Homo sapiens: one gene and its partners. The protein of the gene in region 5 purifies or fractionates together with the protein of the main gene of each other region. This does not show direct contact. Each region holds a gene or a part of one and is shown on either strand. Other genes may lie near its edges. The genes, in order: GPCPD1, TBC1D14, ZYG11A, UNC13B, ZNF418, MIDN and PTPN4.

The links.
Region 1: the proteins of ZNF418 (region 5) and GPCPD1 purify together in Homo sapiens (affinity purification with mass spectrometry; one large-scale study listed by BioGRID and IntAct). This does not show direct contact.
Region 2: the proteins of ZNF418 (region 5) and TBC1D14 purify together in Homo sapiens (affinity purification with mass spectrometry; one large-scale study listed by BioGRID and IntAct). This does not show direct contact.
Region 3: the proteins of ZNF418 (region 5) and ZYG11A purify together in Homo sapiens (affinity purification with mass spectrometry; one large-scale study listed by BioGRID and IntAct). This does not show direct contact.
Region 4: the proteins of ZNF418 (region 5) and UNC13B purify together in Homo sapiens (affinity purification with mass spectrometry; one large-scale study listed by BioGRID and IntAct). This does not show direct contact.
Region 6: the proteins of ZNF418 (region 5) and MIDN purify together in Homo sapiens (affinity purification with mass spectrometry; one large-scale study listed by BioGRID and IntAct). This does not show direct contact.
Region 7: the proteins of ZNF418 (region 5) and PTPN4 purify together in Homo sapiens (affinity purification with mass spectrometry; one large-scale study listed by BioGRID and IntAct). This does not show direct contact.

The regions. Positions count from the first base shown.
Region 1 is NC_000020.11:5,548,225-5,552,447, reverse strand, and holds part of GPCPD1 (glycerophosphocholine phosphodiesterase GPCPD1), read left to right. Parts: intron 1-4,223. UniProt on the Homo sapiens protein: May be involved in the negative regulation of skeletal muscle differentiation, independently of its glycerophosphocholine phosphodiesterase activity.
Region 2 is NC_000004.12:6,923,326-6,926,825, reverse strand, and holds part of TBC1D14 (TBC1 domain family member 14), read right to left. Parts: intron 3,454-3,500; 5' UTR 3,437-3,453; coding exon 2,715-3,436; intron 1-2,714. UniProt on the Homo sapiens protein: Plays a role in the regulation of starvation-induced autophagosome formation.
Region 3 is NC_000001.11:52,863,260-52,866,759, forward strand, and holds part of ZYG11A (protein zyg-11 homolog A), read left to right. Parts: intron 1-721; coding exon 722-898; intron 899-3,243; coding exon 3,244-3,308; intron 3,309-3,500. UniProt on the Homo sapiens protein: Probably acts as a target recruitment subunit in an E3 ubiquitin ligase complex ZYGA-CUL2-elongin BC.
Region 4 is NC_000009.12:35,304,628-35,308,850, reverse strand, and holds part of UNC13B (protein unc-13 homolog B), read right to left. Parts: coding exon 439-4,223; intron 1-438. UniProt on the Homo sapiens protein: Plays a role in vesicle maturation during exocytosis as a target of the diacylglycerol second messenger pathway.
Region 5 is NC_000019.10:57,932,175-57,937,062, forward strand, and holds the start of ZNF418 (zinc finger protein 418), read right to left. Parts: upstream 3,229-4,888; 5' UTR 3,020-3,228; coding exon of another isoform or gene 2,987-3,019; intron 2,962-2,986; exon of another isoform or gene 1,880-2,961; intron 1,729-1,879; 5' UTR 1,649-1,728; coding exon 1,643-1,648; intron 473-1,642; exon of another isoform or gene 322-472; coding exon of another isoform or gene 256-321; intron 1-255. UniProt on the Homo sapiens protein: Transcriptional repressor. May play a role as regulator of the ubiquitin-proteasome system and autophagy-lysosomal pathway.
Region 6 is NC_000019.10:1,246,786-1,251,676, reverse strand, and holds the start of MIDN (midnolin), read right to left. Parts: upstream 3,095-4,891; 5' UTR 3,017-3,094; intron 1,790-3,016; exon of another isoform or gene 1,788-1,789; 5' UTR 1,381-1,787; coding exon 1,148-1,380; intron 116-1,147; coding exon 28-115; intron 1-27. UniProt on the Homo sapiens protein: Facilitates the ubiquitin-independent proteasomal degradation of stimulus-induced transcription factors such as FOSB, EGR1, NR4A1, and IRF4 to the proteasome for degradation. Promotes also the degradation of other substrates such as CBX4.
Region 7 is NC_000002.12:119,982,253-119,985,714, forward strand, and holds the end of PTPN4 (tyrosine-protein phosphatase non-receptor type 4), read left to right. Parts: 3' UTR 1-2,647; downstream 2,648-3,462. UniProt on the Homo sapiens protein: Phosphatase that plays a role in immunity, learning, synaptic plasticity or cell homeostasis. Regulates neuronal cell homeostasis by protecting neurons against apoptosis.

The DNA of each region.
Region 1 (4,223 bases), on a different chromosome or scaffold from region 5:
ACATTTAATGGAGAACAGGAAGATACATGATATAACAGGTGCTCAAGAAAGTTCTTCCTGGCTTGGAGCTTTAAAGAGGAAGAATTGAGTTGGAATTTGGGGAGTGGTTATGTTTACTTTGACAAGATTTGTGTTCTAGGCAGAGGCAAGAGTGTAAATCAGGGCATGACTGTTGAGGGTTTCAGGGAGGTGGCCAGGCACTGGATTCCTAATAGGGTCTGAGGAGGGGAAAGGTGGGTTATGTTGAGTTGGTTTTTACCCTCAACATTTTTTTTTAATTTTATTCAAAAAAGCATGTGTATATAGTTTTAAAATTCAAATAGTTTGATAAGTCTTATAATAAAATACCAATAATTTCTTGTACCTATTTCTTCCATTGTCTCTGGCTGAGACCGTGTCCCCTCAAATCTTTATTTGGCTCTTCTGGCAGTTACCTCTATTTCTAAATAATCTGCTTATGCTATTTTTTCCATTATCAAATTTAGATATCACATAGAAGGTTTTGAATGATTAGTGACTTGGAGCCTTTGAGGCATTTTGGATTGGAGAGAGGTGTGGTGAGAGTGTGTGAGTGTGTTTTCAATTATCAAACACTCAACTGCTACATATCATTTTCTGGTATTTTGTTTGGAAAATTTGCACTTAGGATGATGAGTAAGAGGCCGTTCTTTTTATTTTTTTGAGACAGAGTCTTTGTCACCCAGGCTGGAGTGCAGTGGCACTGTCTCGGCTCACTGCAACCTGGGTTCAAGTGATTCTCCTGCCTTACCCTCCAGCTCCTGGGTTCAAGTGATTCTCCTGCCCCAGCTGTAGTTTTGTATAGTTTCAAGCTTTAAATATACTTCATAAAACTTGTAATTATGTTCTTAAAATTAACATATTGTTGCATGTAGCTATACCTTACTCCTTTTCGTGGTCTTGTTAATATTCCATTGTTGTCTTTACCACAACTTAGACTGCTATTTAGGAACATTTAGGTTGCTGCCAAGTAATTGCTATTTTATAGTGTTGCTGTGAACATTATTGATAGTACAATGACTTTCAAACCTTTTTGCACCCAGCTTATTTTATGCGGCAACCCAGTACACAGATAAGGTATATTTACAAGTATGCACCTGAAACAATTCCAAGTGTCCTTTAGATACTTCCTGTTCATGCGTGTACTTCTTTGTGTGTGTGCGCTTAAATGCTAGTCTTAACTTTCCGAACTGTTTGTGTGACCCGCTAGGTCTCTAGCTCAGCACATCTGCCTGTGGGTCAGGCATAGGAGGTATAGCAGGAGTGGGCTGTCCTGTATTTCCTGGTTCTACACTCACTGTAGCCTGTTACCAGTTCTCAGGAGTAGGCCAAAGCATTATAATCCTGCAGGTAATGTGGAAACTTAATCAGCACATGGTTAGACCATATTTAAGTAATATGCCAGTTCAGGCTCATGAGGGCACTCTGTTCTTAGGTTAACATAGCTGCTAGAGTGACAGTGTCTCTCTCGGAGTAATAGCCCTCAATACGTCTGCCTCTCCACCGGGCTGCTCCAGTACTGATTGGTTGATTGTGCACAGCTGTCATCCTGTGCCCTGCCATTCTCTGTGTTAGATCTCCTGTTTCCTGTAGCTCATATCTTTTCCTCTCTTGGTTCAATGAGTTTTATGGGACATGTCTTTCAGCATCTTCTTAAGAAAGGTGGACACAGGAGGTAAATGTTTTTGAGGTTTTATATGTCCAGAAATATCATGGCTGTGTATAGAACTCTATGTTAGAAATACTTTAGAATTTTAGAAACATTCTCCATCATCTTTACCATTCCAGTGTTGTTGCTCAGTGTGAAGCCACCTTGATTATGTTCTCACACATGTAATCTGTGTTTCCTGTTTGGAAGCTTTGAGGGTCTTCCTTTTATTACCAGAGTTTGGGAATTCTATAGAGATGTGTTTTCTTGTGGGTCTGGCTTTGCCCACTTTGCTGGACACTTGGTAACCCTTTTAGTCTGTCAATACATGTTCTTAAACACAGGAAAATTTTTTCAAAAATAATTCTTTTGATTTTTGACCCTTTCAATTTTCTTGATTTTTTTCTTTATAGAAGTCTTTTTGTTTGAATCAAATAGCTCTTGGACCAGATTTTTGATTTTTTTTTCCTCCTATTTTGTCTTTTTTTTTTTTTTTTTGCTTCATTTGAAAGGTTTTCTCAATCTTACTTTCTACTCATTCTGTTGAGCTTTTATGTTTTTTGTTTGTTTGCTTTGTTTGTTTTTTTTTTGAGATAGTCTCACTCTATCATCCAGGCTGGGGTTCAGTGGTGCGATCTGGGCTCACTGCAACCTCTGTCTACTGGGTTCAAGCAAATTCTCATGCCTCAGTCTCCCAAGTAGCTGGGCCTACAGGCGCACGCCACCATGCCTGGCTAATTTTTTGTATTTTAGTAGAGACAGGGTTTCGCCATGTTGCCCAGGCTGGTCTTGAACTCCTGAGCTCAGGCAATTTGCCTTTCTTGTCCTCCCAAAGTGCTGGGATTACTGGTGTGAGCCACCGTGCCTGGCCTCTGTTGAGTTTTTCATGTCTGCTATTGTGTCTTTAATTTCCAAGAACTATCTTTTTTTCTCTGAATGCATTTTTTTCCATATATTTAGCATCCTATTCTCATTTAATGAACATGCTATTTCCCTGAAGTCATTAAGGATTTTTTTTTTTTTTTTTTTTTTTGAGGCAGGTTCTCTCTCACTCTGCTGCCCAGGTTGGAGTGCAGTGGCACAATCTCAGCTCACTGCTCCCTTGACCTCCTGAGTTCCAGTCCTCCCACCTCAGTGAATGAGACTTCTCTTACATCTTAGCAACATTTGGATGGAAATTAAATTTAAATCCAGTCCACTCTAGTAGTTTTTGAAGAGGCTTTGATTCAGCTCCAAAATCTCGATTGCTTGACTTGGTCTCTTATGAGAATACTCAGAAGAATACTCAGAAGGTGTCTTCTTAAACAACAAACCTATTTTTAGTGGTGGAGCTGTTTTTAGTAGCTGTGTCTGCATGGGACTGATAACCAATCACGATGTTTGGAGGAAGTCCTAACCTTTCCTTGTATACCCTCTCTATATGTGTAACAGCTTCTCTGTTTTCACATTCAGTAGTCCATACTGCTATCTTATCACCTTTAGCTCTAACATTAAGAACAGCTGCACATATATCATCACTGAGTCATCAAAAGATTCTCCAATAAGACACAGTAGAGTCTCTAGCCAAAAGTGATTGAGGTCCCTTCATCTCTGCTGTTTGTTCAATGTAAATTAGCCATCATCCTCCCTGTTTGTTTTTCTCATCTTCCCACATGGGCTCAACACCATCCTTAAAAAGTGAGTAGTCACAGCCAGACATTAAATTACTAGACAACTGGATATGGTTGTACAGAGCCCAAAAGTCAACAGGATCAAACTTAGAGATCAGCGGCAGGTTTGCTTGTCAAGTTTTGCTTTTATCTTTTTTAAAAAAACCAGAGTGCCCATCTGTTCTGTAGAGGATGTTTAATATAGTGTTCTGGGTTAGCAACCTCCTGATTAGATTCTGTTTTCTCCTCTTCACAGGGGGATTAGGAGTAGGGGTGGTTTCTGGTTTGACAGTCCGCCGTCTTACATCGATCTGCTCCTGCTTTTAACTCTGCTCTTGTTTCCTACCACTGGCCTGGGAGCCAGCCTTTTCAGTTCTCTCACTGACAAACTTTCAGTTCTTATTTATCCATCTGTTTTCCAGCTTTCAAAATGTTGTAGCTTTGTCTCTTGGGTTTTTCTCTTACTTACGGATTTTATTGAAAAGAATCTTTGTTTTATTTTTAATGGAATATAGGGAGAGAACGAAGTTAGATGCTTCTGTTCTGTCTTGATACCTTGACCCAGAGGTCATTTTTCATTCTCTTAGATATGTCTTTAATAATTAATAGAAACTCTTTGTTTTAATACAGTCAGATATTTATTAGAGTCACCATATTTTTTATCGTGTTGAAAAAATTCTTTCCTACTGTGATGTCATAAAGATTCTCTGATACTGCCTTACATAGTTGCCTGGCTGTCACATTCAGGCACAGGAGGCCATCTTTTCTCTGCTGATGGGTAGTGCCAGTGTCAGGTCACCAGAGGCTCTTTCAGAGTTCTCCACTCTGGACGTGTCTGACGTTATTGAGCAGCTTTAGAGTAGTTCCCACGCTGGTAAGCAGTCTTCTTATCTCGATCTTTAGTGACT
Region 2 (3,500 bases), on a different chromosome or scaffold from region 5:
CGATGCCCACAGTCCTCTGGGTACCTGCTGTGGGCCAGGCCCTGGGCTGAATTGATGAACATTCACTGTAACTCCATTTACTCACCTGTAAAATGTTTAGTGAGCTCTAAAGATTCTGGCACAGAAACCCTTTCCCCTCAAAGGAACTCTACATGGAAACTCTTCTCTAACATTTTTAAGACTCTAGGACAAAAGAACCCTAGACTCTGCCCATGTCATCACTTGTTTTAAGTCATTTTTCATTATATTCCATTATCTTCCCAAAGGTAGTTCAGAGAGGCTCACAATAACAATGTCACAGCCATCACAACGAGGATAAGGAACCAAGGAATAAAAGAAGAGACACTTGTTTCCTGCAGCACAAAGCTGAGTATGACTTCCAAGAAACGGTAGCTTTAGAAATGATCTAGAAATTGCATAACCAACGATGCTTCCTTTCAAAGGGGAAGAGAATCCAATATACACAGCTCAGTCAGCTGAATCACAACGGCGGCAGAAAGAGCAACGTGGCCATGATCGCCACAAGCAACTCATACTTAAAAGTTTACTACGTGTCTGGATCTGCATTAAATTTCTCACATGCTAACCCATTTTAATCCCCACTGCCACGGAAGGAAGGGCTCATTATCCCCACTTCTCAGGTGAGGCAGCGGAGACAGAACGTGCGAGGACAAAGGTGAGCGTGTGGCGTTCGTCAACAGCATAATGGGCACACGGGCCACGCTCCTCCGCGCACGGTTCTAGGGGTGAGAAAACTGACTGGGAGGTGAAGGAACTTGTTCAAGGGCACAGAGCTGGACATGGCACAGGTCGGTTGAATTCCAAAGCCACACTCCTTCCACCATGCTGTTTCCCGGCCAAACCCATTTCAAGCAAGGTTTCCCACATTTCTGAAAACCCATCCTCAGGCCCTTCTCGCTGAGCTTCTGATTCTGTATGTCTGGATGGATCCTGAGGTCCGCGTGGAACGGGTACCAGGTGTTGTTCATAAGCAGGGACAGTTGAACACACTCGTCTGAGCACGGGGAAGTTCCGCCACACAAATCTAACCACAGCAACACCGCGATATGGCTACAGCCTCAGAAGGGATAGTGACAAGATCTCCCCCAAAGTTCCCAGGTTCCTCCCACTGAGGGCAATCGCTGAGTTACTGCATTCTGAGACCAGGAACTGTGCTCATGGTACCAAGATACCTATCTGTCAGCACATTCGAGAAGAAAGTTTCCCGACAAAACCACAGACCACACCACAGATCATCTCACTCAGGACTGGCCTTAGGCTGGTCCGAGATGATCCCCTTTAGTTGATGAAGCAACTAAGGCAGTGGTAATGTGTTGGCCACAGTCAGAGTCGCCAGCTGACTCCAGCCGGCACACCACACCATCTCAAAGGGACACCCGGTACTGCAATGTCTGACGTGGGTTCTGCTAGAGACACACACACGGGGCAGCCAGGGTCAACTGCAGAAATGTTCCCACCTGCCAAGCCCCGGCCCCAGAGCCCTCCAAAGAGCAGCTATGGAGCAGATCACGATTCTTTTTTTGTTTGTTTGTTTTTTTGAGATGGAGTCTCATTCTGTCGCCCAGGCTGGAGTGCGGTGGCGCGATCTCGGCTCACCGCAACCTCTGCCTCCTCCTCCCAAGTAGCTGGGAATACAGGCGTGCACCACCATACCTGGCTAATTTTTGTATTTTTAGTAGAGACGGGGTTTTGCCATGTTGGCCAGACTGGTCTCGAACTCCGGACCTCAGGTGCTCCACCCACCTCAGCCTCCCAAAGTGTTGAGATTACAGGAGTGACCCACTGCACCCAGCCACAGATCTCAATTCTACACGTACTCTCCACAGCCCCTGTGCCCTTCCTCCCAGCACGCCACCGTTCGGGAGTTCACATTTGCTTGTGTGACGAAGGTGTCCACTCCCACCACCCCCAGGCCACAAGCCCACCCTAAGTCATGACCCAACATCGTTTCTCTCACCGTATTACCCCACATGACCAGCCTAGAACAGGGCCTAGGAAATAGGCACTTGTTGAACAAAAGCATGAGAGCACAAACGAGAGGCAGAAGCTGAAGGCGCGGCCCCCCCAGGGCTTCAGGGAGACACAGGAACTCCAGCACTCAGGTGACAAGGCCCCATGGGGACGGAGTGCATGGCCAGGCCCAGCACGTTGGGAATGCATGGGGCTGCAGTGCAGCAGAGCACACACCTCCACAGCAGAGGCAGGGCCAGGACAGGCACACGAGAGCACAGCCATCCAGGGGCACGGGGACACGGCTGGAACACCCGGCATGCCAGCACTGCACTATGCCAGCAGGGGCTGGCAGTAGAAATGAGAGTTACTCACTGGCGTCACCCTCACCAGTGCCCTCTGCTTGGCCCAAGAAACGTTAAGTTATGAGTGCACAGGGCCCCGCAGAGGCTCAGGCTGCTGATTTGGTAACACTGGCCACCTGTGGGACAGCCACAGCAGGTCAGAGGCAGAGATGTGACAACAGACTGCAAATGAGCCAGGGACACCGAAGAACAGAATCCCCAACAGACCAGTTCTCACAATCCCACAGGATTCCGGGCTTCTGGGAAAAGACCCAATTATCTGTGTGAGACAGTGCCTGCCTAACACCACAGAGAACACACAACACATTTGAGACAGGAACAAGGAGACTGGTCTGGACTCAACCACCACGATCTTCTAGAGGGCAAAGATGGCATTACCTTGCAAAGAAGTTACTAAATGGCCCCAATATTTTCAATTTACTCCCCTCCTCAGCTTCATGAACACAGTCCTGCTGGTGTAAGCCACGGGTTTCCTTGATAGAGCTCAAGGTGACGTTGGTAAACTGTGGGTCATCGTCATTCTCCAGGGTCACAATGGCACTGGAGCTGCTCGTGACCACAAGGTCCAAGATGTCCTCATTGCTGACGGACAGCGTGGTGGACAGCTCTGTCCCAAGACTGGACACGCTGCAGACGGAGACATCATCGCTGCGGGTCAGGGCTTTGGAGGTCGGGCTATAGAGCTTTACCGAGTCATAGCCTGTCCTGGGAAACGTGGAGGATTTGCGCACGCTCTGTTCCCGCTCGGTGCTGCTAGGAGCTGGTGGCGCACAGGATGGCAGCGCGCAGGCGCTCTGGAAGGCCCGCTCGGGGATGAGGTCGGAGTCGGACTGCTTCCTCCTCACGTGGACCGCGCTGCAGGGTACAGGCTCCGGGTTCCCGATCTCCAGGGTAGGAATCCCCGAGTCCACGGACTGGAGGCTGTGCCGGTCTTCTAAAGCCCTGAGTTTCAGCTTGGGCCCGTACTCAGGCGCGGAGAGGAGTCGGGGCGCCTTGAGATTGACGTGTTGCAGGTTCTGAAGGGGGTTTCCTGGTCGACCATCCAGAATACCCATGAAGGCTACGCCATTTGTAGAGGTGGAGAGTTTTCCATCAGTCATCTTGGTCCAAGGAGAAACTAGAAAAAACACAAACATGGAAATTAAAGTGGATATAAAATTCAAA
Region 3 (3,500 bases), on a different chromosome or scaffold from region 5:
TTTACATTTGTGTTCTAGGTCTTCCACAGTGTAGCTTCAAGTTACCTAATGTTTTGTTTTACCATTTTTCAAATTCTTCTCCTCTGTTGGTGGATTTATCCCATCCTTTTTTTCCACTTTCTGTTTTTCTTTATCACTTTCTTTCCCCTAGGAATACCCTGTCCATTCTGCCCCTACATTTATCTCCTCCTGTGTAAATCCTGAGACTCTGCCTAAATGTGCTCTCTCAATGAGTTCTTCTGATTCTCTCCCAGAAATGGCCACTCTTTCCATAACTACCTCAGATGTCACTTCATTGATGCGTCTTTTATGGTGCTTTTCTTCAATTTTATTTTTTGGCATTTCTCACAGTGTTATTACTGTCACAAGGCTTTATGCTAACGAGTAGCTCTCACTCATGTTTGTGTCCCCTGCAGTACCTGTCACAGTAGCTTGTATGGAGTGAGGCTCAATAAATGATTCTGAAGTTAATTTCACAGATAAAGAAATAGAGGTCTAGAGAAAGGAAGTGACTTGGCCAAAGTCACACAGATAGTTAGTGACTCCATTTGGATTAGAAGGCTTTGCTGTAATACTTTGATGTTCTAAAGAATAAATGCTTAGGATAGGGAAAATCTGTTCCTGTCCCAATAAACGAAGATTTGTGCCAATCAAAACATGCACAAGACAGCATAGAGAATGTTACTGGCATCATATGCACTAAAAACAAGTTCATCTTCAGCTTGTGGCTATAGGAATGAGGAATCACCCATTGGATTTGCGAGTGCAGTTCACAGCCAGTGCTTGCGCTCTCAACCTAACACGCCAGGGCCTGGCCAAGGGGATGCCTGTTCGCCTGTTGTCAGAGGTCACCTGTCTACTTTTCAAGGCTCTGAAAAATTTCCCCCATTACCAGCAGGTAATTTCAATTGAATATTTGTTTGTGCTTTTTTTGTTGTTGTTAATAGTCTCAGCTCTGTTGCCCAGGCCAGAGTGCCGTGGCACAATTTGTTTTTGTTTTTTTAAAGACAGAGTCTCTCTCTGTCGCCCAGGCTGGAGTGCGGTGGCACGATCTCAGCTCACTGTAACCTCTGCCTCCCGGGTTCAAGCAATTCTCCTGCTTCAGCCTCCTGAGTAGCTGGGATTACAGGCGTGCACCACGACGCCCAGCTAATTTTTGTATTTTTAGTAGAGACGGGGTTTCACCATGTTGGTCAGGCTGGTCTCGAACTCCTGGCCTCATGAGCCATGGCATACGGCAGACAATTTGTGTTTTCTAACTTTAGGATAAATATGTGAAAAATAGATATTATTTAGTTCTGGTTTTTCATCCTATTAGAGAAAGAGAATAGATAAAAGAGTGTGTTTGTTATAGAAAAAATAGGAAATATAGATAAGCAGTGAGGCTAAAATTTTCTTTTTTTTGAGAGATTTTCCTTCTTGTTGCCCAGGGTGGAGTGCAGTGGTATGATCTCGGCTCACCGCAACCTCCGCCTCCTGGGTTCGTGCCATTCTCCTACCTCAGCCTCCCGAGTATCTTAGACTACAGGCGCTCGCCACCATGCCTGGCTAATTTTTTTTTTTTTTGTATTTTTAGTAGAGATGGGTTTCACCGTGTTAGCCAGGATGGTCTCGATCTCCTGACCTCATGATCTGCCCACCTTGGTGTCCCAAAATTCTGGGATTACAGACGTGAGCCCCCGCGCCTGGCCTACACTCATTTTTATTTTTATTATTTTTTTTGAGACGGAGTCATTCTGTTGCCGAGGCTAGAGTGCAGTAGCACGATCTTGGCTCACTGCAACCTCTGCCTCCTGCCTCAGCCTCCTGAGTAGCTGGGATTACAGGCGCATGCCACCATGCCTGGTTGATTTTGTATTTTTAGTATAGATGTGGTTTCACCATGTTGGCCAGGGTGGTCTCGAACTCCTGAACTCAGGTGATCCACTGCCTTGGCCTCCCAAAGTGCTGGGATTACAGGAGGGAGCCACCATGCCTGGCTCCCTCCCCCACAACACACATTTTTAAAATGAAAAGGTAGATGATAGACTGGGAAACATGTTCATTATATATATATGAGAATCAACTTCATTCAGAGTATATAAAGAACTCAACTTGTTAATACAGTACAAATCAGTTATAAAAATGATCAAAAGATTTGAACACTTTGGTAGTTTCTTTAGGAATTAAATATACACTTCATAAACTACCTAGTCATTCCACTCCTAGGTATTTACTGAAGATAAATGAAAGCATGTATCCATATAAAGATATTTACACAAATATTCATGGTACCTTTATTTATTGCCAAAAACTTGAAACATCCCAAATGTCCAACAACAGGCGAATAGAAGCATTGTAATAAATCTATTTAGGGAAACACTACTTGGCACACAGAGATGAAGTACTGATATCTGCAGTGTAGATGAAACTCAAAAATGTTATATGTTGAGCAAAACAGGCCAAACTCAAAAGAGCAGAAGTACATGATTCCATTTGCATAACACCTTAAAAAAACTAATCTATAATGACTGTAATTTTCCGAGGATAGGGTTTACAGGGTTGAGACTAACTTGAAGAGGGGACAATGGAACTCTCTGGGGGTGATAGAAGTATTATATCTTGATTGTAGGAGTGGTTACACAGGGGTATAAATTTGTGAAATCTAATACAAATGTGTACTTTGTAAAGGGAGTTTTTTTTTTTTTTTTTTTTTTGAGATGGAGTCTCGCTCTGTCGCCCAGGCTGGAGTGCAGTGGCACAATCTTGGCTCACTGCAAGCTCCGCCTCCCGGGTTCATGCCATTCTCCTGCCTCAGCCTCCCGAGTAGCTGGGACTACAGGCACCCACCACCACGCCCGGCTAATTTTTTGTATTTTTAGTAGAGACGGGGTTTCACTGTGCTAGCCAGGTTGGTCTCGATCTCCTGACCTCGTGATCCGCCTGCCTCTGCCTCCCAAAGTGCTGGGATTACAGGCATGAGCCACCGCACCCGGCCAAGGGAGTTGATTTTTTAAAAATACAGTTAGGAAGGTGGTTTTCCTCATTTATTTCTACCTTATTTTTAAAGTTGGAAAATCCTACTCAAGTCTTCATTCCTGCATGGCAGTCATCAGTTACAGCATTAAATGAAAATTTAATGCTGGTACACAAATGAGCTCTCAATAAGAAAAGCTCACTAGTAATACTTCCAAATACATGGAATCTTTGTTTAGAATGGAATGTTACATTTGTTCAAAATTATTTTTCTTTATTCTCTAAAAGTTACAGAAGAATTGTCTTCTCTCCTTAACCAATTCCAGGATTCTTGTGGATGTTCCATTTGACAGGCAAGTATAAGACTTGGTCATTTGACTGGGGTGTTGGCCTTTGGTTATTAAATGCAGAGGCCTGATTAAGGCTGGGATAAGGTGTTTGGAGAGAAGGTTCTGTTGAGCATCTTCCACAGAGAAGTGATTAGAAGTACCCTACTAGAAAATGTTGTCTCCTAAAGTGATTCTAGTATAGGATAGTGGGTAAGA
Region 4 (4,223 bases), on a different chromosome or scaffold from region 5:
AAGCAAAATAGATCTATCCCCATCTCCTACAAGATATAAGTGCCTAAGGCCCAAGGAAGCATCCTAGCCTATCATGTAGTTGTAGTTAATATATACCACCAACTACTTACTACCTCTTCCTGCCCTCCTTTCTCCATTTCACATTATACAAGGCAGAGCAAACCAGAGTGAGTAAATATCGGGGGCCCAGCTTTTGCTTTAAGCAGGAAGCTCCTTGTTCCAGTAAATGAATTACATTTGGCAGAGAGAGAAGGGGAGGATGAAAATACCCACACACTGAGTTCTTGTTATTTAACCCCTAATTAACATGAAGCTCGGGTACTAGGAAAGACACAAGAAGGATAAAAAGCAAGCTATGATTAATCTACCACTAAGTCACTTGCATCATAAATGGTCAATTCCTTAAAGCCATTTATGATGCTTGAGTTAAGAACAGGCCTTTTGTTGGTCATGGGCTCCTTGATGTCATTCAGAGTGACTGGCTGCTGTACATTCAAATCAGAGTCAGTACTGGCAGGTACTGCCTCCTCTTCTTGTTTTTCTAGCTGGTGAAATATCTCAGAGACAGTGGAGGGTTCTTCCTCATGTTTCCCTGAAGGACAGGCGGGGCTAGACAGGTTGGCTTTGGTATCCCAGTGTTCTCCAGATGCTGAGATTTCCTGCTGGTTTCCCCCTTCTCCAGACCCTGAAAGCCCCTGAGCACAGACCTCTGGACTGGCCACCAGCTGCTCAGAGGTCCCAGAGGGCTGAGTGTAGACTTTACCTGGCTGAGCACTGGCCCCAGATATTTGAGAAGACTTCAAAGCTTTGTTAGCCTCACTGGAGTTAAGGTCCTGATCACTGCTAGTAACTAAAACTGGAGGGGAGGATTCTGTAGGCATTTGTTCAGGGACCCCTTTGTTCTCTTTTGGCCATGGAAATGAAAGATCTACCTTTCCAAATCCTAGTTTTGAATCACTTGCTAATACACTCCCTTTCCCCTCACTACTTCCCTCAAATAGAGTTGACAACTTCTTAAAACTGGACATTAAACCAGTCTCTGCTGCTCTATTGCCAGAGGGGAGAGGTGAGGAAAAGAAAGAGCTCAGTGGTTTCCCATGGTTAGTAGCAGAGGATGGCAAACGAAGCTTTGGCCAAGTGGTCACATTTGGGATCTCAAAACGTGGTCTTGACTGCTCTGTTTCCTGGGGTACTACAGGTGGATCTTTCTGGGCATGAATTATCTCACAACTTTCTCTGGCAGCAAGCACAGGGTCCTCCAGCAGAGGATGAGAAAAGTGCCCTTCGGTTTCCAGAGTGGTGCTCTGGCTCACACTTGCATCATTGAACAGCATAGTATCAGTTTCTAGTGAACTGGCTGGATGCAGCTCCAGTAAGTCTTGGTTTGTGGAGGCAGTTTGAATAGCTGGCTCTGGCTCAAGAGGAAGAGGTGGCTGAATGGGAGGAGGAAGCTCTTCGGCAATGCAGGTAGGATCTGGATGCAACTGTGCTGGCAGCGCAAAGTTCTCTGCTTCTAACGATGCCTCCGTGTCTGTAGCTTGCAATATCCCCATGTCTCCTTCATCACTCAGAGACAATACTCCTTGCCCAGTATCATCACCCGAGAAAGAAGATGTATTAATTGTTTCAGAACGTTGAGGTTCCAGAATATTTTCAGGAGTATTATTGTCTTCCATTTTGGTTGTTAGTTTAGGATCATCTGTCAAGATATCTGATTCTGGCTTTGCACTAACCACAGTCATTCTACAGTCACTGAGAGTAGATTCTGAACTTAGTGCTGTAAAGGCAGCTTCTCTCCTTTCTGGAGGTACTGATCCTACAGCATCTCTGGAACAACCATTTTGAAGCCATGAAGTAGCTGGGAGAGATGATTCTTGTTTGTATGGCTCTGGCTTGGGACTTTTGAAAATTCCAAATAATTCACCTTTGAGGGGCTGAGATGATACATCAGAAGCAAGAGAGAAAAAGGAGTTTTTCTTTGGAGATTTAGGAGAGGAGAAAAGTCCAGAGAGTGTTTTGGGAGGTTCAATTAAGCTCCCAGAGAAAGATTTCACTTTGGTCACAAACCCTGAAAGCATGTCTACTGAAGAGCCTAATGCAAATTTGTCTTCCTCTTTATCTGCATCTTGGTTCTGAAGGTTCCCTGCACACCCTGGCTCTGGAGAGGAAGAGGCTGGCTCTAGGATCTGTGGTAAGACCTCATCGGGGGCCTTTTCTAATGGCAAGTTCACTGGGTCAGTAGTAAATTTCTCATTTTGGTGGCAGTTAGTACAAGTGTCTAAATCATTGAATTTTTCAATTAACTGTTTAGCATGTGAAAAAGAGTTGGACAGTGAGTCACTGGGGAAGGCTTTGTGGTTGAAAGCCTCTTCTTCATGGGGAGCTATCCCAAGGTTCTCTGGGCCAGTGAGGAATGTTTCAGCCTGTGCCTGAAATTCTGGTGAAGGAGGAATAATGTCTTTTTGCAATTCATTCATCTGGAAATCCACTGATGTCCCTGGTACAATATTGGAACTCAGTTTTTCCTGACAGTCCTTGTCTACACTGAGCTCATCTGCAAGGGAGGTAACCTCAATGGTGTTGTTAATGGAAATACAAGGTGCCATTTGCTGTTCATGAACTACTTCTTGGGCTATGCTATCTCTATGACCACTGGAACTTTCTCTGGTCATTGTGCTACCACTCTCTACAAAAACATTTGTCTTCTTACAGGGCTGGGAGGTCACTGGAACAACAGTTGAAATGCTTTGTTTTTCCCCAGAGGTCTCCTTTTTTTGATCCAAAAAGGACAAGCTGAAGAAACTAAAAGTAGAACTACTATGAGAGGCATCCTTCTTAATGCTTGAGCTAGCAGTGGAAAAAAATGAAGGAAGTGTGAATAGCCCTTCTGCCTGAGATTTGGCTCTTGGTAGAGTAGCAGAGGCTCTGTTCTCAGATTTTTCAGATCCAGTGAGAAAAGAAAATATACTCTTTTTGGTTGATAACTCTGGTTGAGATGAAGATGTTGCAGCCATAGAGAAACTCCAGTCTTTGTCAGAAAAATGATCTTGTTCATTTGAATTTCTCTTGCTCAGGGTATCAAAGGATATTTCATTACTTTTTGAAACTTCTGTCACTGTAGTCACACCACTAGTTTCTACTGAAGACTCCCTGGAAGACTCTTTGAGACTACTTGTTGAAAAAGATGAATTAGGTGACTGCTGGATTAGATGGTCTCTGAATGGTACCTCTTTTTCAGTCAAATCATTACCCTGGATCCCTCTAGTTGATTCCTCTAACCTACTGTCATCGATAGTAGTCTGTTTGTTCAGTCTTCTAACTCTAGCCTTCCCTTTAGAGGAAATTGGTGCAGCAGGAAAGTTCCCAGCACCCTGGCTAGCTAGCTCCATAGGAGTAGGACTTGACCTGACCTCATCCTTAATAGTCATTGAAGAAACAGACGTATTTTCAGTTGTCTGTATAGGAGATACATTGGCTTTAAAGAAATCCCCAAGGGTACCCCAAAAATTTGAAACACCAGAAGATTCTTTCTTTTCTTGAGGTGGTATCTTGACATTTGTATCACCAATCTTTTCTAAGTTTGGTGATCCTTCTTTATTCACCTGAGTCTTAAAAAGATTCAAAAATCCAGATGACTGTTTTTCATTTGCTGTCATACTAACTGACGATTCTTCTTGACTGAAGAGTTTCAATGAACTTTTAAATAATGTTTTATCAGACTCTTTGGATGACTGGCCCTGGGGAAGCTCATAATTCTCACGCTCATCCCCACTATGCTGAGGTGCAGGAGAAACTGAAATAGAGTCTGTTGTAATGATTTCATCATCTTTTACACCTGATTTAGCCTGAGGAGTTGTTTGGCTTACCTGGAAACCAGATTTTAACAAACTTTGCTTTTTCACATGGTTGTTTTTATTTAAAGAGAATTCTTGCCTTATATTTTTGATCAATTCTGGATGCTGAACATTGGATACTATCTGTCTTTCTGAATCCTTAAGAAGACTTTTTTCCACATTTGGGGAGTTACCCTCTAATTGCTTACTCATGATTAATGACTGAAAGCCATCATTTGTGAGCTCTGCTAAATCTGACTGCTGATTCACTTTCTGCATGGCCAAAGCCTCTAAGGATTCACTCTTATCAAACTTCAAAGTACTACCAACTGAGGCACCCAAAACAGAAAATACTGAAGCCACTTTGTTCACTAATGATGTCTCTTCTGC
Region 5 (4,888 bases):
ATTGAAACCCAGTACAAAGTATAATAACCAGAAACTGTGCCTGATCCCTTAATGAAAAGGGTTGTTAGGCCAGGATACATTATCCAATAGAACAGAGTGGGAAGGGGATTTGTGCTCAGGCCATTTGAGGTCATACAGTATCACCACACACCAACGTTGCACATCACATTGGCCTTTCATTTTCGGCCTTATGCCACAATGTGGCTGACAGAATTCAGAGTATGCTTGGCAAATTCAAACAGGATCCAATATTACCACAGAATTCTCATGGCTCCCAATAGCAATGCAGTCCCAAGTCATTCTATGAAGGCCTTCTTGCATGGCTCCACATCCCCACAGAACCAGGTGGGGCTTTAGATATCCATGGCCCTATTCCACTTCTGTGTTGCACTTGGTGACCCCTCTACAATGACGACTTTCCTCTGTCCACCTAGAGTCATTTAAATCCCACTCCCTTGTTATGGAGAATGGTCTAAGAAAAGTGGAAAACAAAAGAAAAAAATAAATAAAATCCCAGCCCATCAGCTGTCCACCCCAGGCCCAATGTCTGTCACAGATAACCAAATTTACCCTGAGCATGTATCCACCAGGCCGAATGAAAACCCCCAAGCACCAACAAAGTTTTCTCAAAATCTTGGTGAGTCCACAGAGTGGTGAATAAGTACCAGCCTTGGCCCAAGTGTCATCTTCCTTCAATTATTTCTATGCTTCTGCTTACATCTCTTATCTATTCTACCCTTGGAAAGCCTATGCCCCCTGACAAACCATGTTGTCTGACATACCCTATCTTCATGAGCCCTTGCCTCCTTCTCCTGTGGCAATGTCAGCCAGGGACCCAAGCAAGAAATTCAGCCCTCAGCCTGCAACCACCCCTTCCTGGCCCCCACAAAAGATTTACCATGAAAATTTGAAGTGTGTCAATGTCATAATGGAGGCTAAACTATCTCAGACTCTTAACATGGTCAAAACAACATTCTTCACATCCCCAATGAATATTATACCTACTATGTGCTCATCTCAGTTGATGCAGCTTCCATCACTGCAGATGCTAAGACCAAAAACCTGGTGGTCATACCTGATTCCCCTTTCATGCCCTCACAGTCTATTAGAAAATCTAGTTACCGACCGGGCTTGGTGGCTCACGCCTGTAATCCCAGCACTTTGGGAGGCCGAGACGGGTAGATCACGAGGTCAGGAGATCAAGACCATCTGGCTAACACGGTGAAACCCCATCTCTACTAAAAATATTAAAAATTAGCCGGGCATGGCCGGGCTTGGTGGCTCATGCCTGTAATCCCAGCACTTTGGGAGGCCGAGGCCGATGGATCACGAGGTCAGGAGATTGAGACTATCCTGGCTAACACAGTGAAACCGTCTCTACTAAAAAATCCAAAAAATTAGCTGAGCATGGTGACGGGCGCCTGTAGTCCCAGCTACTCGGGAGGTTGAGGCAGGAGAATGGCGTGAACCCGGGAGGCAGAGCTTGCAATGAGCCAAGATCGTGCCACTGCACTCCAGCCTGGGCGATAGAGCGAGACTCCCGCTCAAAAAAAAAAGGAAAATCTAGTTGCCATTTTACAAACTGTGAATCTTGAATCCAGCCACAGCTCCTTACTCATTAATATGGTCCAGTAACCCTCACCTGCATTATGGCAGGAGTTTAAACTCTGATCCTCCTTCCTCCTCCCTCAAACACAGTGTGTTCTCTTCTTTGCAGCCAGATGATGCCTGCAGACAAATGGGACTGTGGTAACATCACCTCCTCGCCGCCCTCTTGCCTCCCCACCGAATTTTTACCTCTAAGCATTTCATGACCTGGTACCAACTCTGTAGTTAACCTTCAAAGTATGTTTACATGGGTTGACAGAAATGGGAATACCTCCATACATCCTGTGTCATGGACTTAGGATTCTGGGTTTAGGGTTTCTCCAGTGTTCTCAGATCAAAGGACTGAAAAAATGGCAAGTAAGAGTCCCAGGACATCACAAGCTAGAGAACATGTGAATGGGGAATAAGGCCAGTGAGGGAATGGAACACCCTCTAATTCCCTCTGTGGGTTCCTTTTTTTGAGCCAGAGTTTCGCTCTTGTTGCCCAGGCCGGAGTGCAATGGCTCACCGCAACCTCTGCCTCCCGAGTTCAAGCAATTCTCCTGCCTTAGCCTCTGAGTAGCTGGGATTACAGTCATGCGGCATCACCACGCCTGGCTAATTTTGTATTTTTGTTAGAGACGGGGTTTCTCCATGTTGGTCAGGCTGGTCTCGAACTCCCGACCTCAGGTGATCCGCCCGCCTCGGCCTCCCAAAGTGCTGGGATTACAGGTGGGAGCCACCTTGCCCGACCCCCTCAGTGGGTTCTTTACGTGCTTTTGTAGCCAGGAGTGTCTGAGGGGAAAGCAGACGTTACAAAGGGGATCTGATAAGCTCAGGTCTCCTTGAACCTTTTCTTATCGCTGGAGCCAGGTGACCTCAGACTGGTTGACCTGCGTGTCTCAGTGCAAAATGTCATCTCTACCACCTATGTGATCTATCAACAAAGGAGTCAACCTCCCAGAACCCTAAGGTCCTCATCTCCTCTACTATGTTCTTCCTTTGGCCTTTGGGAAACCTTAAAAGCCTGGACTTGGATCGCATCCCTCCTTTCTTCGAAACTCTCCATGGCTTCTAGCGTCTTCACAGCGAATACACAGCCCCCAGCCTGCTCTTCCAGGAGAAGCTTCGCCTCACACGTTGTTCCCTACAGGCGCCTGTGGACCCCAGGTTCCATCCTCCCGGGTCTGTCCTCCAGGCCATAGCCCGCGCCGGTCCCTGTGCCTGTCGCTCTCCCCACCGCATCCCACAGGTGTCAGAAACAAGGACCTCTCCCGCGAACGCCTCAGTGTCCCGACGCCGGGTCCGGGCTGCAGACCTGTGAACAGTCGCCGCTCTCTCGCTGCTTCAGGATTCGGGTTAGGATGAGGTGACCTGAGGGCAGGGAAGGCACAATTACCTGAGCCGGGAGCCTCAGCGCGGCCGCCGCCATCCCGAGTACGCGGGGAAAGCACTGCCGGGAGCGGCGGGCGCCGTTACGGGGCCTAAGATCTGCCTCTGTGCAGCAAGAAGGACTCTTCACCTTCTGGGTTCAGACACCGCGGTTCGGACCCATAGCTCCAGCGCCTCTCACCTCACAAACCGCAGAAACACACCCAACATTAACCAAAATGGTCGCTACCAGAGAACGCTGAGAATCCCGCCACTACGTTACGTGCGCACACAGAAACGCCTTTATTCTGAGCCCTTACTGGTTCTGTTGCGCTGTCATTCAATGTAGAGCTTTCTGGGTAATGTAGTTCCCCAGGTTCCAAGGTAGTAAAGCTGCCGCTTCCCAAAGGCGCTTCTGCAGGGAAGTCCCAGCCCTACCTCAGGGGGTTCATTAAAGCGCGTACCCTTTTAGGGCAGAGGATGGTCTCGCCCCTCCTTAGAGGCCATATTGAGATTCCTGGGGAATCCCTGTTTGTAACTGACCACCTAAGTGTTTGCAAAAATATTAATTCACATTTCTGTAAATTCAAGCTCCCAGGCGCTAAAAATACTGTGAAGGCCCCCAAAGGCTACAAATCCAAATTCGTGTATCACTTTATACAATCGTTTAGACACAGAATGCTTGCACTGGAAGCAGAGGCTGATAAACATTACTCTGTTATAATTCACATGAATGCACTCTTGTTACCGGATAGAATGTCTTGGCTGTGAGTTGTCCAGTTGTTGGCGCATTGAACAAAGAAGTGAACAAAACACACAAAAAAAGCAACGAAAGAACGGACCAATGAAAGCGCAGATTTATTGAGGGGAAAGTACACTCCACAGAAGTGGAATGTAGGTGTGGGAGCAGGCGACCAAGCGGCTCAAGAACCCCGATTACAATGTTTTTTAGGGTTTTATTAGGTTGGTGCAAAAGTAATTGCGGTTTTTGCCATGAATAAGCTAGAATTTTATAATACCCCAAGAGTTCTTTAAAGGCCTCCAATCCTATGAAGGACTGGTGCACAACCAATCAGAGGCTGAAGTGGAGACTTCTGTCTTGTTACCACAGGAGTGAGGACGTGGCCTGTGTGCTGCCTCATCTTGCCTAGAACTAGCTGCACCTGCTGTTCTTTTGCTTATGCCTTCATTCTTGGTTACCCTAATTCCCTATTCTCCTGCCTCACTCTGAGGCATTAGAGTTGGTTTTTCAGTCTGCCAGGGACAAAAGAGAACTAATCCAGATAGGACCATGCCAAGGAAGATAGAGGAGAGGCTAAAGAAAGAGTACAAAGGTCAATCAGTCGTTCCCATGGAAAAACAACTCTCCTGCTTATATAGTCAATTATTGTGTCCAATTCATTCAGCAAAACATTTATTCATGTAATATCCCTTACTTGGTATTCTAACTTATATTTTCAACTCATTTTAGGAACTTGAAGTCAGTCTCAGGTAAAGAACAATGAAAGAGAAATCTCAGCTTGGTATTGGTAATGGTGGTGATAATCTCCACCTGGAGACACTAGGCGTATGTTAAATTATCGAGCTTGTTATCTTTCCTGGGAAGTGATTATCATTTGTTTCTCTTGTGACAGCGGGGAGTGTTCTGCATGAGGAACTAATATGATACCAGAAAAACAGGTGAAATGCCAGTTACAGAAACTTATTACCAACGACTATCTAATAACTGCGATGACAGAAATAGGTCAATTGAAACATGAGTGGATGGTGAAAAAAATTTACACTTCACAGAAGTTTTTCTTTCTTTTTTTTTTTTTTTTTTTTTGAGACAAAGTCTCGTTCTGTCCCAGACTGGAGTGCAGTGGCGCCATCTTGGCTCACTGCAACCTCCACCTCCCGGGTTCAAGCGATTCTCCTGCCTCAGTCTCCC
Region 6 (4,891 bases), about 57 Mb from region 5:
GGGGCACGCAGCCCCATGGCCATTTACCATGAGGCCCGCTTCCACGGTGGGTACCAAGGTCAGCTTGCTGCCATCACCCACGCCGAACTCCTGCAGCTTCCCCGAACTGAGCCGGCTGGGGGGAGGAAGGAAGAGCATGAGACTCCGCGGAGACGACACAGGGACGCGGAAGCAGAGGCCGCGGGGGAGGGCTGTGCTTGTGTGGGGAGAGACGGATAAGTTCCCACCCCCACCCCTTCCCGGCTTCCAGATCCAGGGCCCTAAGCGCGTGCAGAGAGGTCTCCGTCTGGTGCTGGGAGCCCCATCCTGGCGATTCGGACCCCTTCCCTCCAGTGGAACCCCCGCCCTGGACTCTGGCACCCCCTCTGCACCCCAACCAGGCACTTTCTCCTCCTCTGGGCCCCAGTGTGCTCTATGCCACCTTCCCCCACGACCCCAGGGCAGCCCCTGCCCCCAATTCCCTAATTCTAGTCCTGGCTCCTCTTTGTAGGAACCACGGGTTTCGGCCCGAGGAGAGGCCCTGGGGGTTGCGCCGGGCCGGGCTCCCCCTCCTCCTCCCTCCCCGGCGCAGGCGGCCGCCGCCGCGCAGACAAAGGAGACCCTCCCCCTCCGCCCCTCCCCCGATGGGCCCCTCCACTGGGATGGACACTGCGTGTCCCCGGAGGCCCGCGGGGGGAGGGCTCCGGGCCTGCAGGCGATTTAAATACCAGGGGGGAGGGGAGGCTGCGGGGAGCGCTCGGAGGCGAGAACAAAGGGGGGGAGAGAGACGCAAGTGGGGGGAGACAGCCAGACGCAGAGGAGGCCGCCGAGCAGATGCGGAAGCCGGCGCGGACGCAGGCGGGAGGGGGCGGTGGCGGCCCCCACACCCGCAGCCGGGACCCCCGCAACGCCCTGGGATTCCTGCCCGCCCCCAAGGGGGGCCGCCGAAGCCCGGCCCGGGACGCCCTCGCAGCCGCCTTTGTGCGGCGACCCCGGGCGGGGGAGGGGGCCGAGGCAGGCGAGGCCGAGCAGAGGGCGCCCGAGAGCGCGCGGCGCGCCCCCGCCCCCTGTCTGGCCGCCCCCTGCCTTCCCCGCGCGGCGCGCTCTTTGTTCCCGCCCGGGGGCCGGGGCCCGAGGGGGCGGCCGGCCGGGGGCGCGCGGTACCTACGTGTCTTTGTGGAGAAGAGCCAGGCGCTCCTTGGGCACTTTGAGGCGCTGGGACAACCGCTTGCGCAGCCCCTCCACCGTCTCGTCGGGCGGCACGGCCAGGTCGTAGCGGGTGCCCGTGGTGCTGTGGATGGCGAGGCTCATGGGCGCCGCCTCGGCCGCCGGGCCCAGCTCGCAGGCGCCGCCGGGGGCCCCGCGCCGGCAGCTCCGGGCGCCGCCGGGCTGCGGCTCCATCCCCGGCGCGCGCTGGGGGGCTGGGGGCGGCGGGCGCCGCCAATCCTCGCCGCGCCTCCGGGACAGGGGCGAGAGGCTCCCCGGATGCCGGGTCCTCCGGGCACTCGGGGGCGCGGAGCAGCGCGCGTCCTCCTCGAGAAAGTCCCGGCCGCGGAATGCGAGACCGAAATCCAAAATCCGAGTGGCGCTCCGAGGTCGCTCCGGCTCCTGGGGGCGCCTTCCGGGGGTGGGGACGGCACTTGCTTCTCCTTCAAAGGGCGGCGGGCGCGACCGGGACGCGGCGCGGTTAAGGGTCCTGGGGAGGGGGCGCCGCTCGGCTGGTGGCGCTGGGTGCCGTCTGCCGCCCGGGTCGCGCTTCCTCGCGCGTCCCCTCCCTTAGCAACAGCCGTCGCCGCCGCTCGGAGGATCTGGGGGTGAAAGTAACAAGAAAAAAAAGTTATAATGTATCAACGTTCCAGGGGGCGGGGCCGCCGCCCCCTCCCATTCACTACTTACTCCGCCGGCCGGGCGCCGGCCAATCGCCGCGCGCCGAGCGCCCAGTCGGCCGCGAGCCCGGGCCTATGAGAGCCGCCGCGGCACCGCCCCACGTGGCAGCCGGGCCCGCCCCCTCGCCCCGCCCCCAGCGCCCAGGCGACCAAGGGGAGCGCAGCGGGGGCGGGGCTGGCGCCTCTCCGCGCCCGCCCCCGCCCCGCCCGCGCCCGCAGCCATTCATAAGCGCCCGGAGCCCGCAACAAAGGGCGGGCGCGCCCCGGGGGGCGCGGGACCCAGGTCTGGAGACGGGTCTGGTACCCCTCGCGATCCCAAGGGAGCGGCCGGGAGCGGGAGGGGGCGCGGGCCATTGTTCCCGGCGCCGGGAGGGGCAGGAAGTCGTGGGGCCACCCCGCCGCCTTCGTCCGGGAAAAGCCGCGAGCGGAAGCGGGAGCGCGAAGTCCGCGCCTCGTGGCCGGGGTCCCGGGGCGGGCGGGCGACGGTGAGGCTAGGGCCGCGGCCCCGGGGAGGGCGTGGTGCGTGGGGGCGGAGTTGTGGCCGGGGCGGGGCGCCCGCACCTCGGTGACGTGGCCGGGTGGCTGCCGCCGGGGGCCCCGCGCGCCCACCCGCCGGCCGCGGGCAGAACCCGTTTCCCCGAGGCGCGCCCGCTCGAGCCGTGACGTGACGCGGCGTCCCCGGCTGCGCCCGCGCGCGCTCGGGGATGCGGTGAGTCAGCAGCTCGGGCGCGCCCTCTGCCGGGCCCGCCTGGGAGCGCCGCCCGGAGTCCCGGGGAGGGGGCGCCGCGCTGCCCCTGGCAGGGGAGGAAGACGACTGGGCTGCGCGCGGGGGAGGAACCCCGATCGGGAACGAAAGACTGTAGTCGGGAGACTGGGACCGTGTGGCTGGGCAACGGAGGGCGGAACGGCAACCAGTTCAAGGTCACCCGCGGTGAAGGGGGAGTGCCCCGGGGGGCGGGGCGGGGGCTGAGGTCCGGCCAGGGCGGCGCTGGCTGCGCGGAGCCCCTCCCACCCCGCACCCCGGGGGGCTTCCCAGGACCGGAGGCTCCCCGATCCCTCCTGTCCCAAGAACAAAGAAAAGTGCGGGCATCCTGAGCCATCTAGAGTGGGCACCCTTCCTCGGCCCGCAGGTCCCCCCCCTCCACACTCACCGGGCGCGGCCGGTTCTGCGCTCCAAGTGCTGCGAGTACCTTCGTCCGGGGCCGAATGCGCGCTGGCCGGGCCGGTCTGGGCCAAGCGCGCGGCCCTCAGCCTTTATCCGCGCCGCCTTCCCTCGGGGTGGAGTTAGGGCGGGCAGGGGGGCGGGGGGCCGGGCGGGCGGTGACGCAGACTGGCCCCCGCCCCTGCCTGCCGGCCCTGGCCCTGGGGCGCCTTGACGGCTGGGCCACCCGGGACCCAGGCTTGGCGCAGTTCATGGGGGGACTCCCCTTGAATGCCCCGAGCCAAGGGTCTCGGCCCGCCTCGCCGCGGGCTGAGATGCACCCCGAATCGTCAGCGGGACAGGGTTTTGGGGTGTACAGCGCGACTCGCTGCCCCGCCCCCTTCCTGTCGCCCCAGGCCCGGTGCTTCCGCCTGGGGGCGCCCGCGTGGGGGGGACGGGAAGAGGGGCCTGAGTCAGCGGCTGTCGTCCAGGAAAACAGGCTGGAGTCACCTGCCGTAGAGTGGGGGTGCCCTGGCCAGCCCTGGCCTCCTGCATCTGTCAATGGTGACCTCAGAGGGCATTTATGGAGCGATTAGCCAGTGCCAGGCCTGCCTTGTGCCCAGCCAGTCACCAGCCGGCTATGCTGTGACCCCGGGAGGTAACTGGCCTCTCCAAGCCTCAGTTTCTCCAGGGTGGGTGGGAGTGTGGTGAGGGGATGCGGCAGGATCACTTTGGGGCCATCACCCCCCATTAATGCAGGACATGCACTGGTTCCCAGCCTTTGGGGTGGGCATTACCCCATTTTACAGATGAAGAAACTGAGGCCACAGCCAATGAGACACGAATGTGGTGTGCATCTCACCCTTCCCCGTCGGCTTTTTGAGGATGGTCCTGGTTGAGGTGGGCCCCGTCCTGCCCCTCTATTTAGAGAAGGGGACCCCATTCCTACGGGAGCACCTCCTGTCCACTCATCTGGCCCCTCCCTTTATCTGGCCTGACCACCTCCACCCCCACCCTGGCCATGGGCGCCCCTCCCAGGGCTGCGCTCCTCCCCAGGTCTCCTTCCGGCTGCCACCCATGCTCCCGGCAGCCGTGGCCCCCACCTTGACAGGCACACCCAGCCCCGAAGGGTCAGGGCTAGGCCAGAGAGGGAGAGGCTGGGATAACCCTTGGAAGGGGGTCACAGGGGCTGCGGTTTGAGGAATGACTAGGAGTTTGTCACATAAAAAAGATGATGCGGTCGGGCGCGGTGGCTCACGCCTGTAATCCCAGCACTTTGGGAGGCCGAGGCGGGCGGATCACAAGGTCAAGAGATTGAGACCAGCCTGGCCAACATGGTGAAACCCTGTCTCTACTAAAAATACAAAAATTAGCTGGGCATGGTGGCATGTGTCTGTAGTCCCAGCTACTCAGGAGGCTGAGGCAGGAGAATCGCTTGAACGCGGGAGGCGGAGGTTACAATAAACCCAGATCGTGCCAGGGCACTCCAGCCTGAGCGACAAAACGAGATTCCGTCTCAAAAAAAAAAAAAAAAAAAAAAAAGGCCGGGCGCGGTGGCTCATGCCTGTAATCCTGGCACTTTGGGAGGCCGAGGCGGGCGGATCACGAGGTCAGGAGTTCGAGACCAGCCTGATCAACATGGTGAAACCCTGTCTGTACTAAAAACACAAAAATTAGCCAGGCGTGGTGATGTGCGCCTGTAATCTCAGCTACTTGGGAGGCTGAGGCGGGAGCATTGCTCGAACCCGGGAGACGGAGATTGTGGTGAGCTGAGATTGTGCCATTGCACTCCAGCCTGGGCAATAAGAGCGAAACTCCTCTCAAAAAAAAAAAAAAAAAAAAAAAAAAAAGACGATGGTCCAGGAAGTGGGAATGGCTTGAGCAG
Region 7 (3,462 bases), on a different chromosome or scaffold from region 5:
AAGGTTGAAACTGTTAACTTCTTTAATTTCATTGTTTAAAGGAGATAAAATGTTATTTGTGTGTCTTTCATGCTGTAAAGAAAATGAATGTATCTTTCAAATGTCATTAGAATTATGGCTTGATTCTAAGGATACTCTATTTGTTTTAAAGTCTACACGGGATTGAAAAGAAAGGGAAGAGTATTACACTTCATTGTACAAAATGTAATTTTAGAAGAAAAACATTTTCATTATAAACAAGAGCAATCATTGAAGCATTTTCAGATATAATGTACATTCTTTTTCATTTTGCTTTGCCTCTAGAATAGAAACTTTTCAGAAAATTTGCACATACTGTTTGTAAGTATAAAATAATTGAATTCTAGACTTTTGGAGTGTGGAAGGGTGTTTGTGTGTGAAGGTAATAAATGTGTTGCTGCATGTGTTTACCATAGAGAACGTTGCCAGGCTTTGTCAAATGAGGACATTGTTGTGAGGGTGTGACTTTTGTGAAGCCAGAAAACTGTGCCTAAGATTCATTACAGTGAGTATGTGCAGAGGCCCCTGACCCAGTAAATGCTTTTTGCCTTTTTATTCCCAATGTCTTGGACAGTTGAGACAACTTGGCCCAACTCTGAATTGTAGCAGTGATGTCTTATATGCTTACGAGTTTATATTAATTCAGCTGAACAAGAACTACATCTTAAACCACCTTTGTAGGTATGATTAATACGTGCAACAGCTGCTTTAAAAGGTGGTATTTATTATTCATCACTCATGAAACTTGACTCAGTGAGGACTTCATTATTTTTATTTCTCTTTCCACGTCTCCAACTTTTTAAAAATCACTAATTTAACTCTTTGTTAAGTACTCAAGTACAAAGTGATCTCTTCTTTCATGAACTTTGCTATAACTGTTGAAAGGATTGGTGTCAGGCTCTCTCAACCCTGGGAGTTTCCAAAATTTAGCAAATATTACTTGTGATAAGCTTAAATGCCACATCGCTAAGTACAATTATTACCAGGAATCCGTCAAGGGGGAGATAGCCCCGCTCACACCCTTAGACCCAAACAGGTGCTGGTTCATGCTTTCTCCACAAATTGGCAGTTGGGTACTTCCCCACTGTCATCACAGTTGAGCTCATTTTAACATATATTCAAAGAAGCTTTTTAGTTTCTACTCCTGAATTGTAGTGTTCAAGTTATTTGCCTTCCTGGGTAAGAAAATTTTAACCCAAGTCTGGGATTCTCTGGCACCTGTCTTTTCCCATCTTTTAATGAGTTGGCAAGATTAGGTCAAATTTCAATGCTAAATTTGATTTTTTGAATTTTAAATAGTTGCACTTTATTTCATGCTGACCACCAACTTAATTTATACATTTTAAAATAAAATTATCCTAGAAGTGTTGTAAACGTGGGAAAATTTTAATTAGTGTTGGAGGTCATTAGATTGGACCCAGGTTTAAATATAATGATCTCTTCACAGCTTATTTGATGTTTAAGAGCAACTTGTGTGATCTTAGCTTTGCAGGTTTTCTGTAATTTATGTAGCACAATAAAGGATAACCAGTTGACTGTGTTACTGGACTCTGAGTTCTCACAGCTAGTTTCATCTAAGCTTGGTTTATTATCATTTCTGCTTTGGATTTTTTTGTGCATCACATGAATACTTAGAAATCCATTTGTTTTCAGTGTAGTACCTAGGGTGAAGTAGATGCTGCACAAGTAAGTTTAAGGGAATAAAAGTCCCGACACTTTATATACATGTTGAGGGGCACGATTTAAGAGACTGAAACAGTTTACATTAAACTGTTTTTATTTTCTGCCAGTAGACTCTATCTGCTTAAAAAAATAAAAATTGTTCAACCCAGTGTTCTCCAGCATCAGGACATTACAGTTGTAATCTATGTTGTAATCTTTTCAAATAAGAAAAGCTACTCCTTATTCTCTACAGTGTAGGCTTAATTTTAGAACCGATAATTTACTATATCTGCATTATTGATATTTTTAAGTAGTAGTTTTAAAAATAATTATTTCTATGTGGAGGGTGTTTTAATTTGGGATTTTTTTTTTCTTGTAACAGGTGCTATTTGTAAATATGAAGGGGAAAAGTCACTTAGTTAAAAGTCTAGCTTATGTCATAATTAAGATACAATTATTCATTTCATGTTTGATTCTATTAAACTAGTGGCAAAACAGAATTGGTCCCTTAGTTTTTTAGATTACCTTTCCCCCTATATCACAAAAATATCTCTTTCCATATGATCTCATAATTGAGGCAAAGAAGCTAAGGGTTTATTTAAAATGTGTATAAGCTTGAATTTGGTCAACACTGCATAATTTGAAATCACTCTGCATTTGTCACTGCAGCTTACTGTATGCTTGAAAGGCCTTGTGTGTTTGTCTTAATTTTAGTGAAAAAATTAGAATTTCTGCCATTCATGTACAAAAAAATTACAACTACAGCAAACAAGATAAAAATGCTGGTTTGCATTAATACTGTTTTAGTCTTAAGAGCAATTTATATTATGTGAAATGCTGTTACACATATTTTGTTGGCCATATTTCATTTTGAGAAACAGTTGTTCAGGTACAAACATGACAAACAACTCTAGCTATGACTCTTAATGTTCAATTGCAAAATAAAGATGTGCTTTAGTAATCTAAAGTACAGAAGTTTTGAAGATTATTTTATGGGAGTTTTTCATGGGCTTTTCTAACAGTGGTTATATTTAGTAACTGGTTATCAGGAATGGAGAGAATGACAAGTGTAAAATTTATTTCTGGAGTTATTGACTCACATAGTGGCTGTATTTGAGGAAAGGGAGTAGGTGAGGAACTAAAAGGGATTTAGAAGATTAAATAGTGTCTGAAGAGGCCGGGCGCGGTGGCTCACGCCTGTAATCCCAGCATTTTGGGAGGCTGAGGCGGGCAGATCACAAGGTCAGGAGATCGAGATCATCCTGGCCAACATGGAGAAACCCCGTCTCTACTAAAAATACAAAAATTAGCTGAGGGTGGTGGCGCACGCCTGTAGTCCCAGCTACTTAGGAGGCTGAGGCAGGAGGATCACTTGAACCTGGGAGGTGGAGGTTGCAGTGAGCCGAGATTGATTGCGCCACTGCACCCCAGCCTGGTGACAAAGTGAAACTCCATCTCAAAAAAAAAAAAAAAAAACAGTGAAGAGAAGATTCTGTTTAATTGTGGCCATTGCTTGGCTCCTGTCCTCTCCCAGTACCAACCCTCTATTCTGGTAATCCTAAGGTAAGACCTTGTCAAGCAAAATAAAGGACCTCTCCTTCTATCCCTGAAGTCAGCTTGCCTAAGTGCAGTTAGATATGCTGTTTTTCCTCTGAAAGAAAAGAAGTACCTAGAGAACAGGTAATAAATAAAGCAGAAAGGTGATTTTTGATTATGCCATGCCTTTGTTCTTATGTACATAATAAAAATTCAAACACTGTAATGAAGATCAAAATGATTTTT